Homo sapiens: one gene and its partners. The protein of the gene in region 3 interacts with the protein of the main gene of each other region in a pairwise test. Each region holds a gene or a part of one and is shown on either strand. Other genes may lie near its edges.

Region 1 (4,944 bases), on a different chromosome or scaffold from region 3:
GAGCCTTGCAAAGATGGAACTGGCTGCCTTGTTCAGTAGTGAGCTCCCCACCACTGGAGCTGTGAAGGCAGAAGCCGGGGTGGGGAGGGCGACTATAAAGAGGATTCCTGTGTTGGTTAGCAGACTAGACCAGGGTCAGTGAGCTTTTTCTATAAAGGGCCAGATAGTAAATACTTGTGGCTTCGTGAACCAGATGGTCTCTGCTGCAACTACCCAGTTCTGCCATTATAGCACAAAAGCAGCTACATAGGCCATAGGTAAATGAATGAGAATGACTGTGCATAAATAAAAATATTTATGGGCAATGAAATTTGAATTTCACGTAATTTTCACATATCATGAAATATTATTCTTCTTCAGCTTTTTTTTTTCCCAACTATTTAAAAATATAAAGACCATCTGTAGCTCGAGTACCATACAAAACAGACTGAATTTGGCATATGGGTTCATAGTTTGCTGACTTCTGAATCGGAGCAGCTGGCCAGAGGCAGAATGATGGAGCACACTGTTCCTCAAAGTGGGGTACCAGAGCACCCACACTGGGGATGCTTGAGGGTGCTTATCCCCACAGTGTGCCCATGTGAGCCCTAATATCTTGAAGCTTCTGTTTCCTGATCCGTAAGTACAGGACCCACATTAGATCCCCAAGTTTCTGTCTTGAGGATGACAGAGCTTTGTCTAGAAAGGGCTTTGTATCAGCTGTACACATATTAGTAGAGCCCAGGGTGAGCTTGAGTCAGACTGAATGGTCTGAGTCCTGGTTCAGTCCTCAACAGCTTTGTTACCAGGAGCAAGTTACTTAACCTCTCTGTTCTTCAATGTCCTCGTCTGTACAATGAGGATAATAATAGCACCTATCAGATAGGGCTGTCGTGTTGTTGTGCTATAAAGCACTTCCTGCCAGACAGGAAGTCTCTGTAATTATTAGCTGTTGTGATTTTTCACTGGTGTTATCATTCCTGGGACCCAGTCTAAGTTAGTAGCCAAGCTAAGTGCCAGCCCAAGATTCTGACTCCAGTGCAGCCTTTGTGATGGTCTTTGTGTCCCTGGCAAATGAGCGGTCACTGGCTGGGTGGCCACCACATTCACAGACAGGTCAGGTTTCAGGCTGTGGGGAGGAGCAGATTCTTACTTGGAAATTAAGGCCTTTGCCTTCCCCTATGGATAGAACTGGTGAATAGGTTTTATTCCCTTAGTGAGCTCAAAGAAATAAGAGTATAGTCCCAGACTTCCACTCTTCTGGTTTTAGAAAAAAAAAAACCCAAACCCTCAGTGTCTCCTAATTAGCTTGAGGCCATCACCCCATGAGAAGCAGGGGGATTCAGGACAGTTTAACTCTTTACTGCCTTACTAAGGAGATCTTGATCTAGGCCAGTGCCCTCCAAACTTCTGTCTTTCATGTAGCTCATTTGTGATTTGTGTCTACCCCCATGCCACCTTCATTATTATTTTCGTAGGGTTTTCTTTTCATTAGCTTATCTGTTAAAATTTGACCTCATCCTATATAATTATATCCATGAAATCATGGCTTTGATGTTCGTGTTTTTTTCCTATCCTGCATTAAAGTAAATAATGCAGGAGAGGAAAAATTTAATGTCCCTCTAAAAATGTCTTTAAGTTTGCCCATGAGCCCACCTGGCATGATCCCAGGTAGCTCATTTTGATCACTGGGACGTAAGCAGCCTGAAATGGGGTCACAGCTTAGTCTCCGCATCAGAAGAGCTGGGTTCAGGTGCCAGCTCCGCCCCTTCCCGGCTGTGTCCCCCAGGTCTCCTCCTCAAGGGACACGGGAAACTTAGAAGTTGATAGAGCACTGCAAAGTGCGGTGGAGAACCACTGTGCAAGCCCTGAGGAGGGGAACTGGGCCTCGCTCCTGCTGGGGAAGGTAGAGAAGGGAAGGACGGAGCCTGGAGTCTTCCCAGAAGGGAAGGACGGAGCCAGGGGAGAAGGGAGGGGGAGAGAAGAACCAGCCAGACCACAGGGGCTGAGACAGACAGAGAATTTAGGGACAGACAGAGGGGTCTACTGTTTGAACTTGTTTGTGTTGGTGCAGTATAAACCCTGTAGTGGTTAACTTTATGTGTCAACTTGGCTAGGCCAGGGGAGAAAGATAGTTGGTCAAACATTATTTTAGATGTTTCTGTGAACGTATGCCTTAGATGAGATTAACATTTAAATCACCAGACCCGCGTAAAGCGTATTGCCCTCAATAACATGGGTGGGCCTCGTCCAATCAGTTGAAGGCCTGAATAGGAAAAAGACTGACCTCCCCAGAACAAGAGGGAACTTGGCCAGCAGGCTCCCCTTGTCCTTGCACTTGGACAGCATCTGTTTCCTGGATCTCCAGCCTGCCAGCTCACCCTACAGATTTTCAACTTGCTAAGCCTTCACACCTGCATAAGCCAATTCCTTAAGCGCTCGCTCTTTCTCCTGTGTGTGTGTGTGTGTCTGTCTCTCTCTCTCTCTCTTTCTTTCTGCTAGTTCCTTTTCTCTTTTTTTTTTTTTTTCTTTTTTTTTTGAGACGGAGTCTCACTCTGTTTCCCAGGCTGGAGTGCAGTGGGGCAGTCTTGGCTCACTGTAACCTCCACCTCCCAGGTTTAAGCAATTCTCCTGCCTCAGCCTCCTGAGTAGCTGGGACTACAGGCGCGTGCCACCACACCTGGCTAATTTTTATATTTTTTGTAGAGGCAGAGTTTCACCATGTTGGCCAGGCTGGTCTTGAACTCCTGACCTCGTGATCCTCCCGCCTTGGCCTCTCAAAGTGCTAGGATTACGGGCATGAGCTACCACAGCCAGCCTAGTTCCTTTTCTCTAGAGATCCCTGACTAATACAAAGCCCACTCCACCCCTGACCATCCAGATTGTCAGCAATACCTTTTACACTCCCAAGTGGGGAGTGAAAACAAATGCCATCTGTACCTCAGCCAGCCACTTCAAGCCTCTGCCTTCACAGCCTCACTTCTTACCTGGGGAGTTTTAGAAAACCTTTCTTTATCTCACTGACATTTCCTTTTGTTAGGTACTATAGTTAGTTACATCGACTTTAACATTGTGGGTTGCGGAAGCAATACCCTCTGTAAGGTATTTTAGGGTTTCTCTTGTGGTTTATGGTTAAAAAAAATACAGGGGAGAGGCAGCCAGGGTTTTGAGGAAGGGTGGCTCAGCAAATTAGGAGATGGATGGAACTTTCCACGCTGGGTCTGGAAAGAGTTATTCCTTTGGAAAATAGTTTTCAAGACAAGTTTCTGGCTGAAAAAAAAATAGCTTCTGCATATTTGTGATTTAAAAATCTCTTATGGGGTGCTTGAAATTCTCAATCATGTTGTGGTTGATATGTTTGTAGAGGATAGCATTTATTTTGGTGCTTGAAATGTATACACTCCTCCTCACACATCCCTGGAAGGTGAGTGCTTTGGTCATCTTTATTCTGTAGAGGAGGAACTGAGGCACAGAGAGGCCGAGGAGTTACCCAGGCTCACACAGCTGGTAGGTGCTGGAGTCTGGGCAGGATTTGTCTGTGTCTGCATCCCATCCTCCCAACTTTTCCATCTCACCGATTCCCCCTTAGAACTGAAAGAGGCCAGGCGCAGTGGCTCACACCTGTAATCCCAGCACTTTGGGAGGCCAAGACAGGCAGATCGCCTGAGGTCAGGAGTTCAAGACCAGCCTGGCCAACATGGTAAAACCCCATCTTTACTAAAAATACAAACATTAGCTGGATGTGGTGGTGGGCGCCTGTAATCCCAGCTACCCTGGAGGCTGAGACAGGAGAATCGCTTGAACCGGTGAGGCGGAAGTTGCAGTGAGCCAAGATCGTGCCACAGCACTCCAGCCTGGGCAACAGAGTGAGACTCCATCTCAAAAAAAAAAAAAAAAAGAGAGAGAACTGAGAGACCTGCTGGGTTTCCCTTTGAGTGACAACATCTGTGTCCATCTAGAATGAATTCGTTCAGTAGTGGCTTCTTCTGTATTTCTGCCTAACCTTCTTGACCACATTGGTTTCATCCTCGTGCTTGCATTCTCACGGTAGGAAGCACAGGTGAAAGTACCAACTGTCTGTGTCTCTGTTACCAAGAAAGCAAAACCTTCCCCAGGAGCCGCCCAAGAGACACCCGCTTCCATCTCTGTGGCCAGAAGTCCCAGGGCTACTTCTGGCTGCAAGGGGGTCTAGAAAAGCTAAATGCTGTGAGCCCAGGGGGAGCATCTTCCACAACTATTGGAGTCAGCTCCACATGGTAGGGTTAATAAAAATTTCACATAGTCACTGAGTACAGTAATAGAAATACAGTATCTAGCAAGGACAGGTAAATGTGGCGTGTGGGTTCCCACACTGCATTTCCAGATGGACAGCATGGCTGGCCTATATCCAGAGGGGTCGGTCAGAATAGGGTGAAGGCTCTGGAGATCATTATCAGAGTGGAGTGGTCACAGGTCCTGAGGATGTTGGAGGACAGATTAAGGAGGGACGTGGTACTTTTTAAAAGTATTCAAAGGGTCACGGTGGCTCACGCCTGTAATCCCAGCACTTTGGGAGGCCAAGACGGGTGGATCACGAGGTCAAGAGATCGAGACCATCCTGGCCAATGTGGTGAAACCCTGTCTCTACTAAAAATACAAAAATTAGCTGGGCATGGTGGCACACGCCTGTAGTCCCAGCTACTCGGGAGGCCGAGTGAGGCAGGTGAACTTCAACCCAGTAGTTGGAGGTTGCAGTGAGCCGAGATCGTGCCACTGCACTCCAGCCTGGGCAACAGTGAGACTCTGTCTCAAAAAAAAAATGTATTCAGAGGATTGCAAGTTGGAAGAAGGATTAGGATTTCCACACAATAGCTAGTAAGGGATCAATGAGTGCCCAAGTGTGGAGGTGTTTCATTTACACTGTTATAAAGGTTTATTGTGCTGGTGAATACAGCCTCATCTTTCATTCAGTCATTCAGCAAACAG
Region 2 (3,500 bases), on a different chromosome or scaffold from region 3:
TACGCCTGCCTCAGCCTCCCAAAGTGCTGGGATTACAGGTGTGAGCCACCATGCCTGGCTGGGACTTTGACTTTCTCAGACACACTTTCCTGTCATGTTGGGTTTTTTTGTTTTCTTTTGTTTTAGGGACAAGCAGGCCGGGTGCAGTGGCTCACGCCTCTAATCCCAGCACTTTGGGAGGGAGGCTGAGGCGGGTGGATCACCTGAGGTCAGGAGTTCATGACCAGCCTGACCAACATGGCAAAACCTTGTCTCTACTAAAAATACAAAAATTAGCCAGGCGTAGTGGTGGGCGCCTGTAATCCCAGCTACTTGGGAGGCTGAGGCAGGAGAATCGCTTGACCCTGGGAGGTGGAGGTTGTGATGAGCCGAGATCAAGCCACCGCACTCCAGCCTAGGTGACAGAGCAACACTTTGTATCAAAAAAGAAAAAAAAAGAACAAGCATGTAGAGATTTTTTTAAAGCAATTAAAATTAACCATATAGCTGCCTCAGCTTGCCCCTCAAAAAAAATAGAGAAAAGGGAAAAAATCACCTCGGAACTCCTTTATTGATACAGGTACCGTTAGTATGGTGGTAGATGGCTTACTAGTTTTTTTTTCTAACTTTTTAAGCTACTTTTAATCCAGATGGGTCCACATTTTGGGAGTCTTTTGTCTATTTCTTTCGAACCAGGTCTCCATGTTGTCCTGTGGACTCCATGACCATCCTCTTGCACTTCTGGAATATTCTGTCCCATCAACTTGTCACCGTTTGCTTATTGTTAAATATTTAGGTGGTTTCCCCTTTGTTCTAGTTATAAATACTACCACAATGCACAGTTTTGGTACGTGCACCTTTTCCTGTATTTTGGATTATTTCATGTGGATTGCGTCCCGGCAGCAAGGCTGCAGCGGCTCGTGGCCTGTGCTGGGTGGCTGGGATTGAAGAGTGTTCCTGAGTGTGGAGGATCCTTTGCTGGAGGACTTAAAGTCCCCATGCTGCTGGCTGTCTGTGTTGGAGTCTGGGACTTGCTGGAGAAGGGTCAGTGGCGCAAGAGCGAGACCACAAACACCTGTCTCTTAGAGGCTGCGTTCCCATTTGCTAGGAGGAAAAAGAGCCTGGAGCAGGAGCCGTGTGAACCAGGAGAGGGTGGGCTCCCCGAGACACGGGGGACGTGACCATTAGCATTCTCCCTCACCCCAGCCAGACAGACGTGACCCAGAGGGACAGAGGGACTTGCTTGTGGTCACGGATGTGTTGGTGCTGGGCCCTCGGGCGACAGACCCATTCTTTTGCCCCAGGGCTGGAGGTGGATCTGGGCAAGAGTGAGGCGGCCACCTCTCCTCTGTCCCCAGCATGTCAGGCATAATGCCAGCTCCTCCTTGCCTCTATCCCCAGTTTATAGATGAGAAAATTGAGGCTTGGGACAAATGACAGGTCCAGATTTCAACTCCAGGCCGTCTGCTTCCAAATTCAGCTTCTTTTCCCCACAACTTTTGTGACCTGAATGCTGGAGACCTAAAGAACTGTTTACCCTTGGCTCTGGGACCCTGCTTCCTAGTTCCAGCCCAGGCTTTGGGGCACCAGCCTTGGAGGCTGAAGGGACCCTCAGCCAGGGTTCAGCTGGCTTCAACCCCTGTGGCAGGAGTGGGGGTGGGATAAAGAGATAATATAACAACTGACATTTATTCAGCACTTACAGTATGCTAGACGCTGCTCTAAGCGTGGTATGTGTACTGTCAGACTTAACGCTTGCAAAAGCCCTACAAAGGAGATACTCTTTCTGCCCCCATTTGACAGATGGGGAGACTGAGGTACTCGTATAACTCAGTCAGGTGAAGAAATTTACCCAAGTAACACTGCCCTGAAATGAGCCACTGGGGCTCAAGCCCTGGGCCTAAGCACTGCAGTGTGCTGCCACAGTGGAGAGGATGGGGATCTTCCTCTTGCCTGATCTTCTCCCCGCAGGCACTCAGCCTTTTCTCTGGTCCCCATAACGGCCCTCCCATCCGGGGTACAACCCCTGGGACCCTGCCTTTACCTTCAGCAGCCCCATCTATGCCCTGCTCTGTCTTCCTCCTGCCTTCATCCTTAGGTGAAATCTCAGACTGTCAGACCCCTAGTAGAACTTAGAATATGTCCTATCCACCCCCGCTCTTCCCCACCCACTAGCCATAGGGAAACAGAGTCCCAGAATGGTGGGGGGACTTGATGTGGGTCACCCAGCAGGTCAGAGGCAGCCCTGACCAGCCAGTTCCACAAATGGATGTTTGTGGTGTTAGAAACAAAATGCTTGTTCCTCAGTGCCGCAAAGAAATAGCACTTGAACATAAATTTAATCTTCTCAGCAAGGCAATTTTTACTTCTACAGAAGGGTGCGATTCAAGAATGGAGTAATGGCGAGAGCACATCTGAACAAGGGAGGGGAAGGGGTTCTTACTCCTGACGCAGGTAGCCCCTACTGCTACGTCGTTCCCCTACGGGCTAGTGTTGGACCGCACAGTCTAAGCTAATTCCAGTTAGCTATTTTAGAGAGAGCAGGGGTATGAGCCAGAGTGGCGGGGTGAGTAGTTTGGCGGGAAGGATGGTTAGGAACAGGTAACTAAAGGTGACTTAGGTCAAAGCAGGTGACCAGGGGTTTGTGAGGTCAAAGCACATGACCAGGATGAGTCAGGATGGAGCAGGTGACCAGGGGAACAGATGTGAACTACTGATTAAAACTGGTGGAAAAGGTTGTTTACTGAAACCATGAGGAAGTTAAACTTTAAAATGGAGGACAAAGAACTGAACATACTGACATACTGATTCTTTGAAGAGAAATCTAGAACTCACTGTATCCAGTGGAAGTGGATGTTTGCTCTGAGCCCTGGACTAACTGATTGGGACATGGAATGCTGTGGACTCTCCTTGTCCTGGAAAAACTCACTGTCTGCTGGGAGTGCAGACACACTGACAAATCAAAACAGCACACCTGGGCATGTATGGTCTGGTTCTCCAAGGACACCCAAGGACGGATGCACCTAAGAAAGGAGGGACTGGCTTCAGTGAGATTTTCAGGACAGGGTTTTGAAGGATGAATAGAAGTTTGCTAGGGGCTGGGCATGGTGGCTCATGCCTGTAATCCCAACGTTTTGGGAGGCTAAGGTGGGAGGATCACTTGCGGCCAGGCATTCAAGACCAGCCTGGGCAACATAGCAAGACTCTTTCTCCACAAATATTTTTAAAATTTAGTTGGGCATAATGACTCATACCTGTAGCTGCTCGGGAGGCTGAGGCAGAGGATTGCTTGAGGCCAGGAGGTGGAGGTTGCAGTGAGCTATGATTGCACCACTGCACTCCAGCCTGGGAAACAGAGCAAGACCCCGACTCTCCAAAATTAAAAAAAAAAGGCCAGGTGGTCAAACAAAGGATGAGTGTTGGTCTGGGAAAGGGCATGGCAGAGGCAGGAGCGAGGTGTGTTTAGGGGAAGAGCCCACATATCCCCACTGACTGGGCATAAATAATTGTGATAGTAGTCA
Region 3 (4,944 bases):
CTTTAGATTCTTTATTGGAAAGGGCAAGGATAAAGTAAATGAGTGCATAAACAGTACTGATTGAGGAGTTAGAATGGGTGAAATTATCCTTAAACAAGATACTTATTTCTGTTATAAAAAAAGGAAGCCTCATATGGTGGGCTGATAAAGAAGGTGCATGGCATAGAACATAGAGCAGAGATGGGTGGATGGGGACAAGACAGCAGCAGTGGGGTAAAGTAAGGATAGGCTCAGACACTTTCATTTATTCAGCAAATGCTCATCAAGGGCTTACTGCTTGCCAAGCAGTGTGCTGGCTTGCTAGCTGCTGGAGATATGATGATAAGCAGAACTAAACCAAACCAAACAAAACAAAAAAACAGTTTTTAAAAAGAACTGAGAGATTGAGAGATACGGATGGTCAGGCAAGATATCGTTGTACATGGGATGGAAGAGCTTCATTCAGTGGGCTTTGTGTGTTTCTCAGCAAGATAATTACCATTGTATAAAGAGAAGACACAGAAAATACAGAATTAGGTTAAAAATACAATGGTGGCCTATATGAAAATTAAAGGATTTTTGTTGAATTACTGTGAATAGTGTTTTAAAATTGAAATCCTTTTCTTTTCAAGTCACTGATTGGCTGGAGGAATGTTACACGGCTGCTGGTGTTTTCCACAGATGCCGGGTTTCACTTTGCTGGAGATGGGAAACTTGGTGGCATTGTTTTACCAAATGATGGACAATGTCACCTGGAAAATAATATGTACACAATGAGCCATTATTATGTAAGTGCCTGGTTCCTTACATAGTGAATGTGTTTATGTTGGATTTTAATGTTTAATACTAAGAGCTTGTGGGTGACTGGCTTGGGGTTTCTCAGGGTTTGAGGTTTTGCTGTTTTGGTAAGTAGGGGTCCTGATTGAAAGTGCAGGAAAGCTAGTGTTGCTGTTTGTGAAGATGCAGCTTTGTATTTGCTTCCTTCTGCTCAGACAAGGGCCTCACTGGGGTGGGAAAGGGATGCCCAGATGCCACTTTCACTCTTTGCCTCAACTCCCCGCCCACAGCATTTGGTAGCACAGTCAGTACTCTTTCTAAATAAATAATTTATCTAGTCTCATACTCTTTGTTTTATACGATTTTTAAAAGCAGTCACTCTGCCTTTATTGAAAATAAATATTGGCAAAGCATTCAAGTTCTAGAAGAAATCCAAATGGTAAATCTTGGTCTTTTTCTTAAGTTGTAGATAATAGAATATTTAATTACTGACTATTCTTTAATTTCATTGTCCTTATATTTAATATACATAGATAAACTTACTATTTAAAACCTTTTGAATATGGAATTTTTTATTCATACATGAAAGTAAAGAGAAGAGGATTAGCAATTCATGTATACACACGACTCACTTCAGCAGTTTATATTTGATACTGTTATTTGAAAGCAGTCTTGTAATCTAGTTATATGTATGCAACTAGATGTAATCTAGCTATATATGGATTATATATGTAATCTAGTTATCTAAAGCAGTCTTGTAATCGAGTTATGTGTAATCTTGCATGTATAACTAGATTGAAAAATTAGAAGAGATTATAAGGGTGTATTTAAATACTAAATTATATTACTTGATTTCTTAGGATTATCCTTCTATTGCTCACCTTGTCCAGAAACTGAGTGAAAATAATATTCAGACAATTTTTGCAGTTACTGAAGAATTTCAGCCTGTTTACAAGGTAAATGTGTGAGATAAAAAGAACAAGATTCTAAACATTTTTGATTGTTAGAGGCAAATCATGTCTGAATTGAAATGTGGGAAAATGCCACCAGATAGGCAAACCGAATTTTACAAAAGTGGTTTATATTAATTTTTAATCACATATTATAAAACTGGTTTCTAGGTTTGACTCCTAAAGTTAGTTAGGAGGAAACATGGGAACTGGCATTTAAAGATAAAAGTTGCTCAGTGGATCCTAATTGGTTGAATGAATAGCAGTTGTATTTTACGTGTTTTATCTTTTAATTGCAGGAGCTGAAAAACTTGATCCCTAAGTCAGCAGTAGGAACATTATCTGCAAATTCTAGCAATGTAATTCAGTTGATCATTGATGCATACAATGTGAGTACATCTTAAATAAGATCAGTTTTGGACAATACCCTGTTGAGAATACTTTGTACAAAGAAAGTAAAACTTCCTTCATACACACTTTAGCGAGCCCAAAGTACTACAGAAAAACTTAAATTCTGTATGTATCTAGAGGAAAAACTTTATACATATTGTCTTACAAAAGCAAGATTCATGGCCTAAACAAAGTGAAAATGTGATAAAGGCATGTGGGGAGTATTTCCAAATAACTGTTTGTTTATCATTAAGGAATAGATCTCCTTGTTAGAAAGCAATTGTAAAACATAACTTACATTTAAACTTACAGGATTTCTCCAATCTTTTTCCTCCCCAAAATATCCTTTATAGAGTCATCTATTCTGATGAATTGTGCTAGAAAAGTTTTTTTTTTTGCCAATTCTTCTCTTCCCATATATTCAGAGGATATGGGTTTCTATTTCAGGAGGTACACACTCATATATACGTATACCATAAAATATATAAAAATGTAAATATACATGTGATTTGCCTATTTCAAAAAGATTTATAGTGTTGTTTTCCCCTCACAGATGGGAGGAAGTTGAATTGAAATTAAAGAGGAATTGGCTTATCCTTTTTGAGCATAATTCAGTGTACTTTAATCACACCGAGTTAGCCTTCATTAATAATCATTTAAATAATCTGAAGGCGGTTGTAATTTGGTAGGTAACCCTTGTGTGTCTCGTGCACCACTTTCAGCCCCCATCCCCCTAACCCTTTGGCAGCTTGAATTTTAGACATTTTTACTTCATGTCATGGGGGTACCATAACGCTTTGGAAAGGCCAGCCTACCATATGAGGCTTCCCTTTTTTATGGGGTACCATAATGGTTTGGAAAGGCCTGACTTGGAGGGGTTTTTATAAAGGTTTTTAATATTTTACTTGTTCCACAGCTTTTCCCATTCTCCCCTGTCTTAGATAATTTTCCTAACTCTTGTTCTTTCAGGGGTGTGAACAAGAGATAGCTTGCCATTGTACCCTTCTCCATTTGTCCTGAATAGTCTCATATGTTAAACAAGCCCTGGCTTGAATCCTTCCTTCTTGGGGGATTTTGTTTTTTTTTTTTTTTGGCTGGGCTACAATGGTTCCTTAAGCAAATTTGTTCCTAGACTGCATAGTTGATTGTTTACCCTAGTCCATAGTTAGCTGGAGAGGTAGGACTACAGAAATGCCATTTTGCCGATGGGGAAGACAGCATTTATTTCGTTTTTTTTTGGGGGGTTTCTGTTTTTGTTTTTGTTTTTGTTTTTTAGATGGAGTCGCACTCTGTTGCTCAGGCTGGAGTGCAGTGGTGTGATCTTGGCTCACTGCAACCCCTGCCTCCCGGGTTCAGGCGATTCTTCTGTCTCAGCCTCCCGAGTAGCTGGGATTACAGGTGCACACTGCCATGCTTGGATAAATTTTTTTTTTTTTTTGTATTTTAGCGGAGATGGGGTTTCACTGTGTTGGCCAGGCTGGTCTCCAACTCCTGAGCTCAGGCAGTCCACCTACCTTGGCCTCCCAAAGTGCTGGGATTACAGGTGTGAGCTACCACACCCGGCCTATTCCACATTTTTAAGACTCCTCCTAATTAGTAACAGCCCTCTGCACTGTGTGATCCTGAGTATTTTAACTCAGTGATTAAAACAGGAATACTCTTTTCAATTGTGTATTTTATTTTAAAGATTTGATCCTTATTAATTAAAACCTGTTTCTCTGGCCTCTGTGTTTTCTAGTTACTCAATTGGATTTGGCTTGTAGATACTTTATTGAAATATATTTTTTTCTGAGCAGTTTATCCATTGGTTTTATGCATTCAAGTAGCATTTTGTTTGACTTTTCCTGTGTATAATTAGGCATTCTTTTAGTCCCTTTCCTCAGAAGTCATTTTGGAAAACGGCAAATTGTCAGAAGGCGTAACAATAAGTTACAAATCTTACTGCAAGAACGGGGTGAATGGAACAGGGGAAAATGGAAGAAAATGTTCCAATATTTCCATTGGAGATGAGGTATGTTGTATAAAGCATTTTCTGTAGAAAACATTGGTTATTTATAAGCAAATTTAGTTTATAGTTTGAGAAACATTAAAATAAGTGAGCAACTTTTTGAAATATTTTTTAGTAGATTTAAATTGTTTAGTTGGTTGTTAATCTTTTTTTTCCCTTCAAGGTTCAATTTGAAATTAGCATAACTTCAAATAAGTGTCCAAAAAAGGATTCTGACAGCTTTAAAATTAGGCCTCTGGGCTTTACGGAGGAAGTAGAGGTTATTCTTCAGTACATCTGTGAATGTGAATGCCAAAGCGAAGGCATCCCTGAAAGTCCCAAGTGTCATGAAGGAAATGGGACATTTGAGTGTGGCGCGTGCAGGTAAGCTGGGTGTTGTCAGACAGTGACAGAGCTACATTGGTTTAGAGAGTATAGGCAGGTCATATTTTGGGACATCCAGAGAATATCTCTCTATTTGGAGCAAATTATTTTTTCCAACCACGGTTGCTCACCACAAGATCAGTTTGATGATCTTGTGTGTGATATTTATAGAAAGTTCCTTCCTGCCTTTTTTTCTTAAAGTGATTACTCTTTAAAATAAAAGATTTTATAGCCATGAAAGAAGTATATTCAACAAATTGTTAAGGTAGCGTTTCTCTCATGTGAGAGCAATCAATTTTCTAGAACAAAATAAGCTTGTGTAAAATAACGTTTATAGGAAAATGTTTTGGAAAAACATCAAACCGATGATGGCGATTTCGTCTGGGAAATGGAATTATGAAGCAGTAGAAGATGTTTGTCTTGTACTACATGTACTTCTGCATTGTTGGAATAATTTTTAAAAAATAAATATGTGTT
Region 4 (4,759 bases), about 21 Mb from region 3:
TGCCTTACTTCATCTGAGCAGCTGCTTCTTCTTCTTGCTGACGTTTGGCCTGCTCTTCTTGCTTCTTTCTCTCTTCCTCTTGATGTTTCTTTTTTTCTTCCTCTTCTTTTTTCTTTGATTCTTCCTCTGCCTTCACCTTTTCTTCGTCTTTTTTCTTGCGTTCCTTGTCTTCCTTTTTTCTCTTATCATCTTCCAGTCTCTTCTTCTTGTCTTCAGGGGCCTTGCTGACCTCCTTCTTGGCAGTGAGCTTGATATCGTCTTTTGGCCTCTCCTTGCTGCTCACTGTCCGCCTTTCACTGCAGTCTTTTTCCTTGTTGTTTGGTAAAGAGTCTTTTTCTTCCATACTTGCTGGCTTTTTACGCTCAGCTGGCATTATGTGACCCAGGACAATCTGTAAGAGGGAAAGAATGTCAGTACCATAGATGCAGTGACTTTTTAAAATGATATCACACTATTTTTTTAAACAGAACATATTAATGCAACTTGGCAATTGTAAAAGAGTAAATAAAGGCAGGTAAAATGAATACTATTTCTGTTACAAAATAAGTTATTCATCACATTCCACATCCTATCATTATTAGTTAGGCCTATGTCTAAGTACTTGTTTTTTACTTTTTATAAGGAAAAATCCAAGCCCAGACAAAAGTAGAGAGCATAATATAAGGAACCTCCACGTACCCATCACTCAGATTCAGCCACTATCAACTCCAAAACAATATGTCATTTAATTGTAAATACTTCAGAATATATCTGTGAACATTTTGAGTCAGCTTTAACCCTAGCATTTGACAACCATGAAAGATGGCAGTTCACTATTTCATATAATATTCAATGTCAGTATTTCAGCTGAGAAAGGAAACAAAAACAAGCCCTTGCCTCCTATATGTCAACGGACAAAACAGAACAGCGGACTCACGAATCTCACTTCATTGCTCTAACCTTATCATCAAACTTTCAGATACAAAAACTGTTAACTATCTCAAATTAAACTAGACTTTTAACTTCTTCATCTGTATTAGTTAAAGTTAATTTATAAATAAACATGAACCTAAAATCCGTATGTTCTGTGCTATATCTGTCAATACAGAGTAGCTATTAGCCCAGGGTTTCTAAAGTTCAGCACCATTGACAGTTTGGGCAAAATACTCCTTTGGTTTTAGAGGAAAGGGGTCACCATGTGCTCTGTAGGAGGTTTAGCAGTGTCCCTGCCTGCTATGCAGTGCATACAAGTAGCTCCTCCCTCATTTTGACAACCAAATATAACTCCAGACATTGCTAAATATCCGTCGGAGAAAAAATTATCACCCAAAAACTGCTGCACTAGTCATATGTGGTTACTTAAATGTAAATTAATTAAAATTAAATAAAATTTGAAATTCAGTTCTTCAGTCAGTATCTGTATTTCAAGTGCTCAATTCCACATGTGACTAATGGCTTCCATACACAGCAGGGCAGATACAGAACATTTCCACAGAAAGTTCTATTGGATAGCATTGGCCTATAGTACAGGCTTATAGTTAACTGAAAGTAACTGTGGAACAAAAAACTATACTTTGCAGGAAAATTCTGAATTTTTCTTTTCTAAAAATATATTTCTCTACTCAGAACTAGTTGTCTAATTTCTTTTAGGCATGGTGTTTCACGTTTTAACTCCTAAATTATCTAAGAGTTGTATATAAGAAAATCAAAATTCGGCCAAGCACAGTGGCTCATGCCTATAATCTCAGCACTTTGGAAGGCCAAGGCAGGCAGATTACCTGAAGTCGAGAGTTCGAGACCAACCTGACTAACATGGAGAAATCTCGTCTCTACTAAAAATATAAAATTAGACGGGTATGGTGGCGCATGCCTGTAATCCCAGCTACTCGGGAGGCTGAGGCAGGAGAATGGCTTGAACCCGGGAAGCGGAGGTTGTAATGAGCCAAGATCACGCCATTGGACTCCAGCCTGGGCAACAAGGACAAAACTCCGCCTCAAGAAAAAAAAGAAAATCAAAATTCTATTTTAGAGGTAGAAAATTACCTAAATTTCTTAGTTTTATGTTTTCTTTTTGAAACAGGGTCTCACTTTGTCGCCCAGGCTGGAGTGCAGTGGCACAATCACAGCTCACTGAAGTCTCGACCTCGCAGGCTCAAGTGACCCACCTGCCTCAGCCCCCCAAGTAGCTGGAACAGTAGGTGCTCAACACCACATCCAGGTAATTGTATTTTTAGTAGAGATGGGATTTCCCCATGTTGACTAGGCTGGTCTCGAAATCCTGAGTTTAAGTGATCCATCCACCTGGGCCTCCCAAAGTGCTGGGATTACAGGTATGAGCCACTGTGTTTTTGAGCTTTAGTGTTTTTGTTTTTCTTTTTTTTTTTTTTTTTGAGTCTCGCTCTGTTGCCTAGGCTGGAGTGCAGTGGTGTGATCTCGGCTCACTGCAACCTCCACCTTCCGGGTTTAAGTGAACCTCCCACCTCAGCCTCCCAAGTACCTGAGATTATAAGTGTGTGCCATCACACTCAGCTAATTTTTGTATTTTTAGTAAAGATGGGTTTCACCATATTGGCCAGGCTGCTTGAATTCTTGACCTCAAGTGATCCATCTGACTTGGCCTCCCAAAGTGCAGGATTACAAGCATGAGCCACAGTGCCCGGCCAGCCCTTCGTTTTTTTTTATTAAAAGCAATAGTATCCTTAAATATTTTCAAATATAGGTTTTAAATTACAGCACTTAAAACTAGGTTACCAAAAAAAGCATTTGTAATATTGATATTTTTTAAATACAAAAATACTTTACTTCAGTACTCTATTAAAATGTTAATTTCACAGAAAGCAACCTAGACCAACAGAAACACTTTAATTTTTGCAGGTACATGCCACAGCCTGTACCTTCTCATAACTACCTTTTTCCTTCTCCTTTTTCTTTTACTCCCTCATTGCTCTCCACTCCCTTGTTCTATGCATTTATTTTGACAGTGACACCTAATAGCTGTAGTTAACCCCACTGGTAAAACTCACAACAACAACAAAAAAGCTATTGGGCCTATTTTTAAAATCGTCATTAGGGGCTGGGTGCGGTGGCTCATGCCTGTAATCCCAGCAATTTGGGAGGCCAAGGTGGGCGGATCACCTGAAGTCAGGAGTTTGAGTCCAGCCTGGCCAACATGGTGAAACCCCATCTCTACTGAAAATACAAAAATTAGCTGGGCGTGGTAGCAGGCGCCTGTAATCCCAGCTACTGGGGAGGCTGAGGCAGAACTGCTTGAACCCAGAAAGCAGAGGTTGCAGTGAGCCAAGATCATGCCACTGCACTCCAGCATGGGCGACAGAGTGAGACTCCATCTCACACACACACACACACACACACACACACACACACACACACAAATTACCTTTAATATATGAAAAAGCAGGCTGGGCACCATGGCTCACTCCTGTAATCCCAGCACTTTGGGAAGCCAAGGCAGGCAGATCACTTGAGGTCATGAGTTCAAGACCAGCCTGGCCAACATGTGGAAGCCCCGTCTCTACTAAATATACAAAAATTAAACAGGCATGGTGGAGGGTGCCTGTAATCCCAGCTACTCGGGAGGCTGAAGCAAGAGAATCGCTTGAACCCGGGAGGCGGAGGCTGCAGTAAGCCGAGATAGCGCCACTGCACTCCAGTCTGGGCAAAAGACGGAGACTCCGTCTCAAAAATACAAAAAAAAACAACAACAACAACAAAAGAAAAAGCATTTCTATGCCAAGACAACATTAGCATTTATATTATCTATTTTTTTAATTTAAAAAAAAACTGTTTTAATAAAATAGAGACAAGGTCTCAGTACGTTGCCCTGGCTGGTCTCACACTCCCGGGCTCAAGGGATCCATCCTCCCGCCTCGGCCTTCCAAAGTGCTAGGATTACAGGTATAAGCCACTATACCCGGGCAGCATTTCTATTATCTAGAAGTGTAGTTATTGATTCTTATACATTTTCAATTAAATATCCAACTTTAATGTGAAAACATCACGCCCTTAAAGCAAGCAAACTTTCAAAAAGACTATAATACTAATACACTACTCATGGTACCATACTAAACATTTTACGTATATTATCTCATTTAATACTAAAATCTTTATGAGGTGGGTATTATTTTCCCTATTTTATAAATGAGTAAACTGAGACTTGACCAAGTAACTTGACCAAGGCCTGCACAGCTGGTGACAGAATGGGAATCTGAACCCATTCTCTGAACCAAAGAATCCTAAGAGTACCAAATTGTGAGATGGGAGACATGCTGGTAAATACTGACTATAGCAACCCACAGAATTATGAATCTCAAGAGTAGAAAGAATCCTTCATAATGGTTAAGGAGTTCTCATGTAATGTTTTTAACTTTTAGCAGACTCTGGCTGAAACATATGGGGACAATTTAATATCTAAGGTAATAACATGATCTTATTGAAGGATATTAATCATTAAGTGAAAAAAGTTTATATAGATTTCACATTTTCTGATGTGACGCATCAACAAGTAACATTTCAGGACCACAGGACACTACAAAGAATGGCATCAGAACTTACAATTATGTCTCTCTCTCTCTCTTTTTTTTTTTTTTTTTGAGATGGAGTCTCACTCTGTCGCCAGGCTGGAGTGCAGTGGCACGATCTCGGCTCACCACAACCTCTGCCACCCGGGTTCAAGTCATTCTCCTGCCTCAGCCTCCCGAGTAGCTGGGATTACAGGCATGTGCCACCATGCCCGGCTAATTTTGTATTTTTAGTAGAGATG
Region 5 (2,464 bases), on a different chromosome or scaffold from region 3:
TTTCCTTCTAGCAGGTGGTAGATATCAGGTCATCAGTCTGCACACCTCCCTTCAGAGCCTCAGGGATTCCCAGAGGTGCATCAGAGGACGTGGGCAGCCAAGGGGGTCAGAGGCACCTTACAAAATAAGCCACGGGTGGTAACATTCTTATATCATCACCTTTACAGCTCGGCTTCTTCAAAAGAAAATATGAAAAGATGACCAAAAATCCAGATGAGATTGATGAGACCACAGAGCTCAGTAGCTGAACCAGCAGACCTACCTGCAGTGGGAACCGGCAGCATCCCAGCCAGGGTTTGCTGTTTGCGTGAATGGATTTCTTTTTAAATCCCATATTTTTTTTATCATGTCGTAGGTAAACTAACCTGGTATTTTAAGAGAAAACTGCAGGTCAGTTTGGAATGAAGAAATTGTGGGGGGTGGGGGAGGTGCGGGGGGCAGGTAGGGAAATAATAGGGAAAATACCTATTTTATATGATGGGGGAAAAAAAGTAATCTTTAAACTGGCTGGCCCAGAGTTTACATTCTAATTTGCATTGTGTCAGAAACATGAAATGCTTCCAAGCATGACAACTTTTAAAGAAAAATATGATACTCTCAGATTTTAAGGGGGAAAACTGTTCTCTTTAAAATATTTGTCTTTAAACAGCAACTACAGAAGTGGAAGTGCTTGATATGTAAGTACTTCCACTTGTGTATATTTTAATGAATATTGATGTTAACAAGAGGGGAAAACAAAACACAGGTTTTTTCAATTTATGCTGCTCATCCAAAGTTGCCACAGATGATACTTCCAAGTGATAATTTTATTTATAAACTAGGTAAAATTTGTTGTTGGTTCCTTTTAGACCACGGCTGCCCCTTCCACACCCCATCTTGCTCTAATGATCAAAACATGCTTGAATAACTGAGCTTAGAGTATACCTCCTATATGTCCATTTAAGTTAGGAGAGGGGGCGATATAGAGAATAAGGCACAAAATTTTGTTTAAAACTCAGAATATAACATGTAAAATCCCATCTGCTAGAAGCCCATCCTGTGCCAGAGGAAGGAAAAGGAGGAAATTTCCTTTCTCTTTTAGGAGGCACAACAGTTCTCTTCTAGGATTTGTTTGGCTGACTGGCAGTAACCTAGTGAATTTCTGAAAGATGAGTAATTTCTTTGGCAACCTTCCTCCTCCCTTACTGAACCACTCTCCCACCTCCTGGTGGTACCATTATTATAGAAGCCCTCTACAGCCTGACTTTCTCTCCAGCGGTCCAAAGTTATCCCCTCCTTTACCCCTCATCCAAAGTTCCCACTCCTTCAGGACAGCTGCTGTGCATTAGATATTAGGGGGGAAAGTCATCTGTTTAATTTACACACTTGCATGAATTACTGTATATAAACTCCTTAACTTCAGGGAGCTATTTTCATTTAGTGCTAAACAAGTAAGAAAAATAAGCTCGAGTGAATTTCTAAATGTTGGAATGTTATGGGATGTAAACAATGTAAAGTAAGACATCTCAGGATTTCACCAGAAGTTACAGATGAGGCACTGGAAGCCACCAAATTAGCAGGTGCACCTTCTGTGGCTGTCTTGTTTCTGAAGTACTTAAACTTCCACAAGAGTGAATTTGACCTAGGCAAGTTTGTTCAAAAGGTAGATCCTGAGATGATTTGGTCAGATTGGGATAAGGCCCAGCAATCTGCATTTTAACAAGCACCCCAGTCACTAGGATGCAGATGGACCACACTTTGAGAAACACCACCCATTTCTACTTTTTGCACCTTATTTTCTCTGTTCCTGAGCCCCCACATTCTCTAGGAGAAACTTAGAGGAAAAGGGCACAGACACTACATATCTAAAGCTTTGGACAAGTCCTTGACCTCTATAAACTTCAGAGTCCTCATTATAAAATGGGAAGACTGAGCTGGAGTTCAGCAGTGATGCTTTTAGTTTTAAAAGTCTATGATCTGGACTTCCTATAATACAAATACACAATCCTCCAAGAATTTGACTTGGAAAAAAATGTCAAAGGAAAACAGGTTATCTGCCCATGTGCATATGGACAACCTTGACTACCCTGGCCTGGCCCGTGGTGGCAGTCCAGGGCTATCTGTACTGTTTACAGAATTACTTTGTAGTTGACAACACAAAACAAACAAAAAAGGCATAAAATGCCAGCGGTTTATAGAAAAAACAGCATGGTATTCTCCAGTTAGGTATGCCAGAGTCCAATTCTTTTAACAGCTGTGAGAATTTGCTGCTTCATTCCAACAAAATTTTATTTAAAAAAAAAAAAAAAAGACTGGAGAAACTAGTCATTAGCTTGATAAAGAATATTTAACAGCTAGTGGTGCTGGTGTGTACCTGAAGCTCCAGCTACTTGAGAGACTGAGACAGGAAGATCGCTTGAGCCCAGGAGTTCAAGTCCAGCCTAAGCAACATAGCAAGACCCTGTCTCAAAAAAATGACTATTTA
Region 6 (4,362 bases), on a different chromosome or scaffold from region 3:
CAGAAACTGCTCTGTGTTTAGAAGGAATATTTTTAAGAGTCCAGCTTTTTCATTTCCACAATTTCCTATATCCAGATTTGTTTTGACAATGTAGTTTGGAAGAACTAAGATTCTAATCTCTGAAGAACCTTATAGGGCCTTCTAAAACATAAGAGTTTCCTTTGTTGCTTCAAATATTTGAACATTATGTTAAAGATCAAGTATTAATTTTAGTTGTACTCTAGAAAGCTAAAGTGCCACATTCGGGGCTATTTTTATGATTCAGCAATCTTTTCTAAATTGTGTAGCATGTGTATGAGACTATTTATACCCAAGGATATGAAGGAACATAAGTGACTACAAGGCTCTAATAAGCCACGGTGGCAGGAGGTTCAAGCGGTTCTGTTCACTAAATTTTTCTCCTGTAAGCTTTGAATGGAAACTTCTGTATCACATGATGTGTTTCACTTATGCTGTTGTGTATATACCTAATATTTCTATTTTTGATTTTATTTTAATACACCTCGTCCAATAACATCTCAAGCTTTTTATTTGCATTTACATTTTCAGCTGTGGTCAGTGTAAAAATTGGTCATCAGCTGGGGGCGGGGTGGTTAGAAGTGATTCAACAGAGCTACATGCTTTAAACTTGCCCAAGTTCTACCTCCTTCCTTTGAACATTTCAGATTGGAGAACCAAGGAGTTGATTGCCTGAACACCTGAACATCCGTTTATGGGGGCCAGATAGAATTTGTTTTCAAATAGGCTTAACAGGCATCATTAAAATTTCATTCTGTGTGTTTTGTTTAGGCTTGAGGTGCTTAGAAGATGGGATAAAATATTCTACTTTTTTCTAAATTTTAACTTTGTTTCCTATGTGATTTTTTTAAATGTCCTTTCTAAAATATTCTAAAATTATTGATTCACAAGTGCCATGTTCAGAACTATAGAATATTACTGTTACATAATGTCTGCACAGCTGGTCCCTTGATTCAGTGGTAAGGTTTTTGTGTACACCCCCCTGCTTGCATTTTATTTCAGAACCACAAGTATTACCCAATATGTTACATGGAGAGGAACTATAAAGAATCCCTAAGGCAAAAAGAAGTCTCTAGAAAATGACTAGAGGTTTTTTTTTTAGCATAACAAATTTATTTAAAGAAAATTATTAAATTTATCTTCGCCTTGTTTTGCTTCTCCCAGTTCCTCCTCTTCTTGCCATTTTCCACTTGTCTTTCCCTCCCAATCAAGCCTGTGATCCTTACCTCCATGTGGGCCCTTCACCAGCTTGGGCCTCATCTCTGGTGTCCAGCATGTGTGGAAGTCACACGTTCCCTTGATGAACAGCACACACAGTCTCCTTACTTAGCTATAGGTTTCCAGCCTCCCTGTGACAGACAGGCATAATGAGGGGCTGAATAGGTGTTTGTAGCATTTTCGGGTATCCAGTGGTGTGCAAAATGGCTCATGTCATCACACCTCAGGTTATTGTAGAGAACTGGAAAGACAGAATCCATACTCCCTACCGCCAAGATTCTGACTTAGCTGTTGTGCAGCGGGAGATGTATGTCAGTCTATTTTAAAAGCTTCTCCAGTCAGCTAGACACAGTGGCTCATGCCTGTAATCTCAGCACTTTGGGAGGCTAAGGCAGGAGGATCGCTTGAGCTCAGGAGTTAGACACCAGCCTGAGCAATATAGCAAGTCTCTACAAAAAATTTTAAAAATTAGCTAAGTGTGGTGGCACATACCTATGGTCCCAGCTACTCAGGAGGCTGAGGTGGGAGGATTGCTTGAGCCCAGGAAGTCAAGGCTGCAGTGAGCTATGATCGTGCCACTGCACTCCAGCCTGGGCAAGAGTGAGACCCTGTCTCAAAAAAAAAAACCAAAAAAACAAAAAAACCCTTCCCTGGTGAATATAATGTATGCTCAGTCTTGAGAGTCACCATTTGGTTTGACCCATATTACAAAGCCCAGCCTTCTTTTTCCTCAGATGGTTTCATTTCTCAAAGGGGAGTGGAAGAGAAGGAAGGAGGAAAAAAACGTGCCTTCCTTCCTGGTGAACATGAAGCTCACTGAACCTAAAGGAGACTCACAGGCTAGAAACCAGTGTCCTTAGTAGTAGGGGCCACCTGGGGCTTCCGTGGCTTCTCCAGGCATACCTCCTGAGGTTCCACAGAATCCCCTTGCAGAAAGTACTTCTGATGAGCCACTGGGAACGTGTACTGTCCAAGCCCCCTTCTAGGGGAAATTCACTGCCACAGAAGCCAGCAGCCCTGGCTGTCCCAAGGGTGCATAAAAGGATAATAACTAAAAGGAGGGAATTAATTTTGTTGCCTACACCAGGGATAGATCGAGGGCACTGAAAGCATCATAAGTATAAACTCATCTCCACGTCAGCTTGTGGAGTCTGCTTTCTCGCTCTCTCTTTTTTTTTTTTTTTTGACAGAGTCTCACTCTGTCACGCAGGCTAGAGTTGCAGTGGTGCGATCTCAGCTCATTGCAACCTCCCCCTCTCTGGTTGGAGCGATTCTTCTCCTGCCTCAGCCTCCCTAGTAGCTGGAACTACAGGCACACACCATCTCGCCTGGCTAATTTTTGTATTTTTAGTAGAGATGGGGTTTCACCATGTTAGCCAGGCTGGTCTCGAACTCCTGACCTCAGGCGATCCGCCTGCCTCGGCTTCCCAAAGTGCTGGGATTACAAGTGTGAGCCACTGTGCCCGGTCGGGGTCTGCTTTCTCTTTATTCCCCGTCCTCTCACAAACTACATCCAGGGGCGGTAGCTGCTAAAAGGACTCAATTCTGCAACCTCAGCTTCTGACACCTTCAAATAAATTAAATGCTGGTCCTAGGGCTCGCTCCCCAGCTCTTCTGATGTCACTGCCAGGTTCCACAGCCAGTTGTCGGACATCTCCTGCTTCCTCAGCCAAGAACACCTCTCAGATGAGATCAAACCGCCCAGCTTTCCTCTTAGCATCTTCCTTTATTTTCCACTTCTGGCTGGTGGAAGAGAGATCGTAGTTCTCTATTCCCTACATTTTAACTCCACGAATATTTTAGATTAAGTGAAGTCTTGCTGTTCTTCCTGATGGAAATGGTAATTATAAACATACAAAGATACCCATACACACATTCTTTACTCAGGGCCCTCTTGTGCTTTGGCAAATGATAAAAATTATCTCTAACTCACACAACGACCCTGGAAGATCTGGACAATGCTATCACTATTTCACAGCTGAGAGATCGGGAGCATTTAAAGCCACAGAAGGAATAGATTGGCTTCGCTTCATATTGTTTCCTTGTGAAATAAAACCAGTGAAACACCTTTGTGTAGAATCTCCCTGACTCAGCTGAGTGTTCTGAGTAAGCAAGGGTATTACTTACAAGATGCACCATTTGAGCCCACACAGATGGGAGGGGAAATTTTTCCTTAAGTAATTTTATTTGGGTAGAAAAGTAATGCAAGAATTTAACTTACCATTCACACTTTTAAAGACAATTTGTAGAGACTACACTTCAGAATAAAATGTTTTGGCCAGCTACAGTGGCTCACACCTGTAATCACAATACTTTGGAGGGGCTGAATCAGGACGATCACTTGAGGCCAGGAGTTTGAGACCAGCCAGGACAACATTATGAGACCCTGTCTCTACAAAAAAAAAAATTAAGTTTCAGTAGCATTTATGTTCCATTTCATAACATGAATGTTACTAAAACTGATAAAAATTTTATCCTGAAAAGTTTTAACTTGATAGACGTGTAAGAGGAAAGCCTTCCAATTTAATTTCCTGTGTGCTGATAAATCTATTAAATACTTCAAGTCAGAGTGCCAAAAAGTGTCACAGAATTCCCGAGATGGCCACAGATATTCACAGATCTTGAATATTTCTCTTTAAGGGGGAAATGACAGGGAATCTTGGCGGCCTCTATCTCTAGGTCTTTGGAAGGACTTTAGAAATAATCTAGATTGGCCAATGTTCAATGTTAACGCAGAACTTTTAGAAATAAAAGAGGCCTTAATCTACAGCCCCAAAAGTAGATACCATGTCACACAGCAAGAAAATTATCTGTGATTTTTTTATTATTATTATTATTGTTAGACTTACGCTGGGCTTTGACGATAGGTCCTTTATCCCTTATCTACCACCCTTAGGGTCAGGTATGTTTTTGATTTCAGGTTTTTTAAAAAAAGATTAGGGCCAAGCACGGTGGCTCATGCCTGTAATCCCAGCACTTCAGGAGGCCGAGGCGAGTGTATCACCTAAGGTCAGGAGTTGGAGATCAGCTTGGACAACATGATGAAACCCCGTCTCTATTAAAAATACAAAAAAAATTAGCTGGGTATGGTGGCACATGCCTGTAATCCCAGCTACTCAGGAGGCT
Region 7 (4,944 bases), on a different chromosome or scaffold from region 3:
TTTCTCAGGAATTATCTTATTGATCCTATAGAGGGGGCACCGGAAGTGTTGTTTGCCTCAGTTTTCAAAAGTAAGGCTCAGAAAAGCTGGGTGACCAATGTTCACATAGCGACACAGCAAAAACTAAAACCAGGAATAATATTTCCTTCTTTCTAGTCTTACTACAAAATATGTAGCTACCTCAACTTCTTTTCAGCTGTGAAACTGTTCACCATATACTCCCTGGACATTTTTAGATAGTTCTATCTTATAATTTTCTTAAAACAATGTCTCGTTTGACTTTTGTAATTTTTCAGAAAGTTTTTTGCTAAATTTCTTCTAAAACCATAACATCTTTCACCAATTCCACTAAATGTAATAATCTGTTCATCATTTCTAATCTTTCTTTCCTTACAACATTCACAGTTTCTCCTTTAATATCTTATTCATGCAATATATTTGAACCTTTGTGAAGAAATAAATATAAAAATGTAATTCTTACCTTACCAATCTGCTCATGTTGAGGAGCTCCTCCGACTACTTCGGTAGTATGCTGGCTCCGAAAATGACCAGCTCCGACTGAATATCCTTTAAGAAAAGGGAGAAAGTATGAGAGTCCTGGGTAAAGTACATCATATGGTAATATGGGTAAAATAGATCATAAAATTAAATGATACCGAATTCAAAATCACTACATTAAGCAGTTAAGAATATTTAGCATAGAGATACTCAAAATTGGTCATTCATTATGTTTTATGCAATTTTGATATGTTTTACAAAACTGCAGTCATATGGTATGTATTTCCGAGTCCTAGAAATTGAAAATAGCATCTTTACATCTGGTGCAGTATAATCAGTTTCTAGGATTACAACAGACATATTTTAGAGTATATTAAATATAAAATCTCAATTGGGAAATGAAAACTTTAAACTTTAAATAAACATCTTGCTGAAGTTCAACTTTTTTTGCCACCAAATCTTTGTGATGACTTTTCGATGACAAAAAATTGTTCGTATTTTATGTGATAAAAGGCGTAACAAGTTATATTTCTTGAACGATTTCAAAGTATCCTTTCATCATAAACAAGAAAACATTGAATTGTAACAAATTCTTCTACTTGAAATTTCTTCTGTTTGAATAGAAAGAAAGAGTGCTTATTTTATAATTATTTCTGAGTGTAAGATGCTCACATTTGACACACATACAGTTTAAACAAAGCTGGATTTTCTGAAAATCTATAGGAAAAGCATTTATTTTCTTGTAATGGACATTAATGCCAGAAAAGTTTGCATTTCTGTTGAAATACAGATGATAAAGTATCCTACTATTGACTTATGAGATGACAGTGAGGAGGAGGAAGATGATAAAAATAGTTAAGCTCTGGGAAATATTCTAAGAACTTATGAGGTGAAGGTCAATGAGCTGTTTTTAGACCCATGTGCTTCATGGAGCCCCTCATCCAGAATGTGGTGGACAGTACCACTGGCTTTCAGTTGGTGCTTAAGGAAACTATACTTACTTATGCAGATGTTTAAATGAGTTAATTCATGTAAAGTTCTCACAAAAAGTTCCTGAGATATGGGAGGCACTCAACAGAAACAACCTGTATAATCAGTTGACTACATAGAGATAGAAACTTACTAGTGTTTCCTAAAGTGAACTACAAAGAGTAAACTAAACTAGGAGTTCTATTAAGAATTATATATTGATGATTTTAGTCACATGTGTAAATGTAAAATACTGAGTTCACTGAAGTTTCATAAATCCTATCCTTAAGAGACAGTTTCTGAACTGCCTAATTATTACTGTAATTATACTGGCCATTTAGATCTTTGGAAAATACATTTTCCTTATTTATAATTACAGTACTAGTATTTGTAAGGCACAGATCATTTAAGTTTGTCAATTTTTATAGTACCTAAATAACTTCCAAATTTTACTTGATTTTGTTTGTCTAAAAAAGCCTTGTATTTATTTGTAGTTATATTGTAGACAAAAAGAGAGCCAGTCCAGTAAGATGATCCTGGGGCCCCCATCACAATTAAATCCTGTAAGAAAAAAAAAACTATTATTATTTAAACTTTAATCTCACCACCCCAAACCTCCTCCAGATACACGATAGTGAAGAGAACATATTTTTATAATAATCAATTCCTGAAGTAGGAATATTCTGTGAAGTTAAAACATACTAGGAAAAAAAAAAAGCCAGAGAAGTTGGCTAATGGATTTCTAAAAGCGAAATCTCAGAGAAGAAACTCTGAAACTCTCATTCAATGCATTTATCAGTGGATTTCAAAAGTTGAAGGGACAAGTACTGAACGCTAGAGTAAGCTTTTGGGAGAAAGGCAATGTGGTTCCTATTAAAGAAAATCGTATGTGGGTAATTCATTAGTGCTAATTATGGAGATAATCATGTGTTGCCAAAGAATAAAAAGTAGACTTAATTTACTTCTATTTGCAAAGAACCCCTGACTAATAATGTTAGCTTAGGGAAAACATTTCTAATAATGTTAGCTTAGGGAAAAAAGTCCAATGGAATGTGGGGCATATTTTGTTATACAGAGGAAAATTTAGGAGAAGATTGGAATGAGCATGCCCTTGCCTGGTATAGTATGAACACTTTCAGCAATTAAATATCTTTAGCATATTTCTATACTCCTAAACAATCCTAAACTTAAAAAAAGTCAACTTAAACTGAAGAAAGCATTTTCTTTGTAAGCATTTTAATATAACTGTTAATATGTGCAGACACTGTCAACCCCAAACTTGATATAGTGCCTGATCTTCATGGAGTCAAAAAACATTCCTGAATTCACAGTGTGTTTTTAAGAAAACTGAGAGATTTGGGGTTGAGTACAACTGTGCCCTTTCATACATATCCTAGAATGTTAGAAAGAGAGTAAGAAATCTTGGGAATATTGTCTATCTGATTTAAGGGGATATTAAATTCTTAAATTTCCCAATTATCATAATTTAATGAAAAATATAGACTGATATTCTTCCTTTGCCCCTCAACTAGAAATTTAAAATAACATACTTGGGTTGATATTTTCAATACCTAAGTTAACAAGACAATTAACCATAGCTACTTTTGATTTTCATTAAATTGTTGATGAAAGAAATGTTCTTTAGTATAGATTTTCATTCATCTTATGCAGTATAGCCACCTAAATATTGATATTTTATTGAAATATATGTGGAATTTTGAGTGGCAAAAATTAAGTTGTAATACTCAAGTTTAAGAGACATGATGAAGATGTTACACAATTTTTACTTTAAAACATATCAGTCTTCCAAACCATGAGAAGAATTAAGATTCTATATGTAAACATTTATAGCAGCTATTTTTTGAACAATTACCTTTGTGTAAAAACTGGATATTCCAGCTTGACATGATGCAAAATTTTCTCCAAATTTTTTCACATAATCTAAAATGAAATATTAAAACAACTCAGAATTTTATCTTAAAGATAAAATCTCCATAATTTGTTTCTTAAATCCTTACAAAAATGTCCTTTAAGGTCTATAGTTTGTATTTTTTAAAAATAAAAACCAGTAACCTTGATATAACAAATCCCTTCCATATTAGTATTCAAAATATCCCTATGAAATGGCAATAAAAATATCTCCCTCTGCTTCTTCATAGGAAGCACACACAGCATATACTCAAAAAATTTTTGTCAAATGAGTAAGACAGAGGTAGGATTTGTGATTTTGAGCCCATGCTTTCTTTTTACTGTGTATATCTAAGGTGTACAACATCAGGTTTGATATGCGTATACATAGTGAAACAGTTACTACACTTTACATACCTCCTCACGGTCATCTTTTTTGTGCATTTAGAGTGAAATCTACTCTCTTGGCAAATTTCCAGTGCACAATTATTAACTCCAGTCCTCATGCTGTACATTAGATCTCTAGACTTATTCATCCTACACAAATGCCAACATCTTTCACCAACATCTTCCTATTCCTAACCCTCTCTCTGCTCACCTTCTTCTCTATGTATTTGACTTTTTTAGATTCCACAGATAGGTGAGATCATACAGTATTTGTCTTTCTGGGCCTAGCTTATTTCACTTAAAATAATGTCCTTCGGGGTCATCCATGTTGTCACAAAAGTCAGAATTTCCTTTTTTAAAGGCTGAATAATACTCCATTGTATATGTTTATGTATATATGTGTGTATATATACACCTCACACAATTCCTTATCCATTCATTCATCTGTCAATGGACACTAAGCTTGTTTCTGTAACTTGGCTATTGTGAATGCTGCTGCAATGAACATAAAAACGCAGATCTCTTTATGTGGTACTGATTTCATTTCCTTTGGATATATACCCAGAAGAGGGATTGCTGGACCATATGGTAGTTTTATTTTTAATTTGAGTAACTTCTCTACTGTTTTCTATAATGGCTGTACCAATTTACATTCCAGCCAACAGTGTGCAAGGGTTCCCTTTTCTTCACACCTTCGCCAACACTTGTTATCTCTTGCCTTTTTGATAATGACAATTCTAATAGGTGTGAAGTGATATTTCATAGTGGTTTGTAATTTGCATTTCCTTGATGATTGGTGATGTTAAGCACCTTTTCATCTACTTATTGGCCATTTTGATGCCTTCTTTGGAAAGAAAGCCATTTGGTCTCTTGACTAATTTTTAATCAGTTATTTGGTTTTTTGCTATCGAGTTGGTGAGATCCTTATACATTTTAAATATATAGGACTTATGCGAATATTATTTCCCATTCTGCAGACTGTCTCTTCACTCTGTTGATTATCTCCCTTGCTATGCAGGAGCTTTCTAATATAGTCTCATTTGTTTATTTTTGCTTTTGTTGTTTGAGCTTTTGGTGTAATTTCCAAAAACTCATTGCCTAGACTAATGTCAAGTAGCTTTTCTCTTATGTTTTCCACTAGAAATTTTATGGTTTCAGGTATCGTGTTTAAGTCTTTAATCC

The links.
Region 1: the proteins of ITGB1 (region 3) and TOM1 interact in a two-hybrid assay, tested with the Homo sapiens proteins (one large-scale study listed by IntAct).
Region 2: the proteins of ITGB1 (region 3) and ENG interact in binary tests that used the Homo sapiens proteins (3 or more experiments, as listed by UniProt).
Region 4: the proteins of ITGB1 (region 3) and UPF2 interact in a two-hybrid assay, tested with the Homo sapiens proteins (one large-scale study listed by BioGRID).
Region 5: the proteins of ITGB1 (region 3) and ITGA2 interact in binary tests that used the Homo sapiens proteins (3 or more experiments, as listed by UniProt).
Region 6: the proteins of ITGB1 (region 3) and LYN interact in binary tests that used the Homo sapiens proteins (3 or more experiments, as listed by UniProt).
Region 7: the proteins of ITGB1 (region 3) and ITGA4 interact in binary tests that used the Homo sapiens proteins (3 or more experiments, as listed by UniProt).

The regions. Positions count from the first base shown.
Region 1 is NC_000022.11:35,305,784-35,310,727, forward strand, and holds part of TOM1 (target of Myb1 membrane trafficking protein), read left to right. Parts: intron 1-4,944.
Region 2 is NC_000009.12:127,848,159-127,851,658, reverse strand, and holds part of ENG (endoglin isoform 1 precursor), read left to right. Parts: intron 1-3,500. UniProt on the Homo sapiens protein: Vascular endothelium glycoprotein that plays an important role in the regulation of angiogenesis. Required for normal structure and integrity of adult vasculature. Regulates the migration of vascular endothelial cells.
Region 3 is NC_000010.11:32,919,408-32,924,351, reverse strand, and holds part of ITGB1 (integrin beta-1 isoform 1A precursor), read left to right. Parts: intron 1-611; coding exon 612-767; intron 768-1,616; coding exon 1,617-1,712; intron 1,713-2,005; coding exon 2,006-2,095; intron 2,096-3,966; coding exon 3,967-4,107; intron 4,108-4,267; coding exon 4,268-4,467; intron 4,468-4,944.
Region 4 is NC_000010.11:12,035,051-12,039,809, forward strand, and holds part of UPF2 (regulator of nonsense transcripts 2), read right to left. Parts: intron 392-4,759; 5' UTR 374-391; coding exon 9-373; intron 1-8. UniProt on the Homo sapiens protein: Involved in nonsense-mediated decay (NMD) of mRNAs containing premature stop codons by associating with the nuclear exon junction complex (EJC).
Region 5 is NC_000005.10:53,090,352-53,092,815, forward strand, and holds part of ITGA2 (integrin alpha-2 precursor), read left to right. Parts: intron 1-167; coding exon 168-248; 3' UTR 249-2,464. UniProt on the Homo sapiens protein: Integrin alpha-2/beta-1 is a receptor for laminin, collagen, collagen C-propeptides, fibronectin and E-cadherin. It recognizes the proline-hydroxylated sequence G-F-P-G-E-R in collagen.
Region 6 is NC_000008.11:56,010,866-56,015,227, forward strand, and holds the end of LYN (tyrosine-protein kinase Lyn), read left to right. Parts: 3' UTR 1-3,304; downstream 3,305-4,362. UniProt on the Homo sapiens protein: Non-receptor tyrosine-protein kinase that transmits signals from cell surface receptors and plays an important role in the regulation of innate and adaptive immune responses, hematopoiesis, responses to growth factors and cytokines, integrin signaling, but also responses to DNA damage and genotoxic agents.
Region 7 is NC_000002.12:181,477,221-181,482,164, reverse strand, and holds part of ITGA4 (integrin alpha-4 isoform 1 preproprotein), read right to left. Parts: intron 3,409-4,944; coding exon 3,341-3,408; intron 2,029-3,340; coding exon 1,899-2,028; intron 568-1,898; coding exon 482-567; intron 1-481. UniProt on the Homo sapiens protein: Integrins alpha-4/beta-1 (VLA-4) and alpha-4/beta-7 are receptors for fibronectin. They recognize one or more domains within the alternatively spliced CS-1 and CS-5 regions of fibronectin. They are also receptors for VCAM1.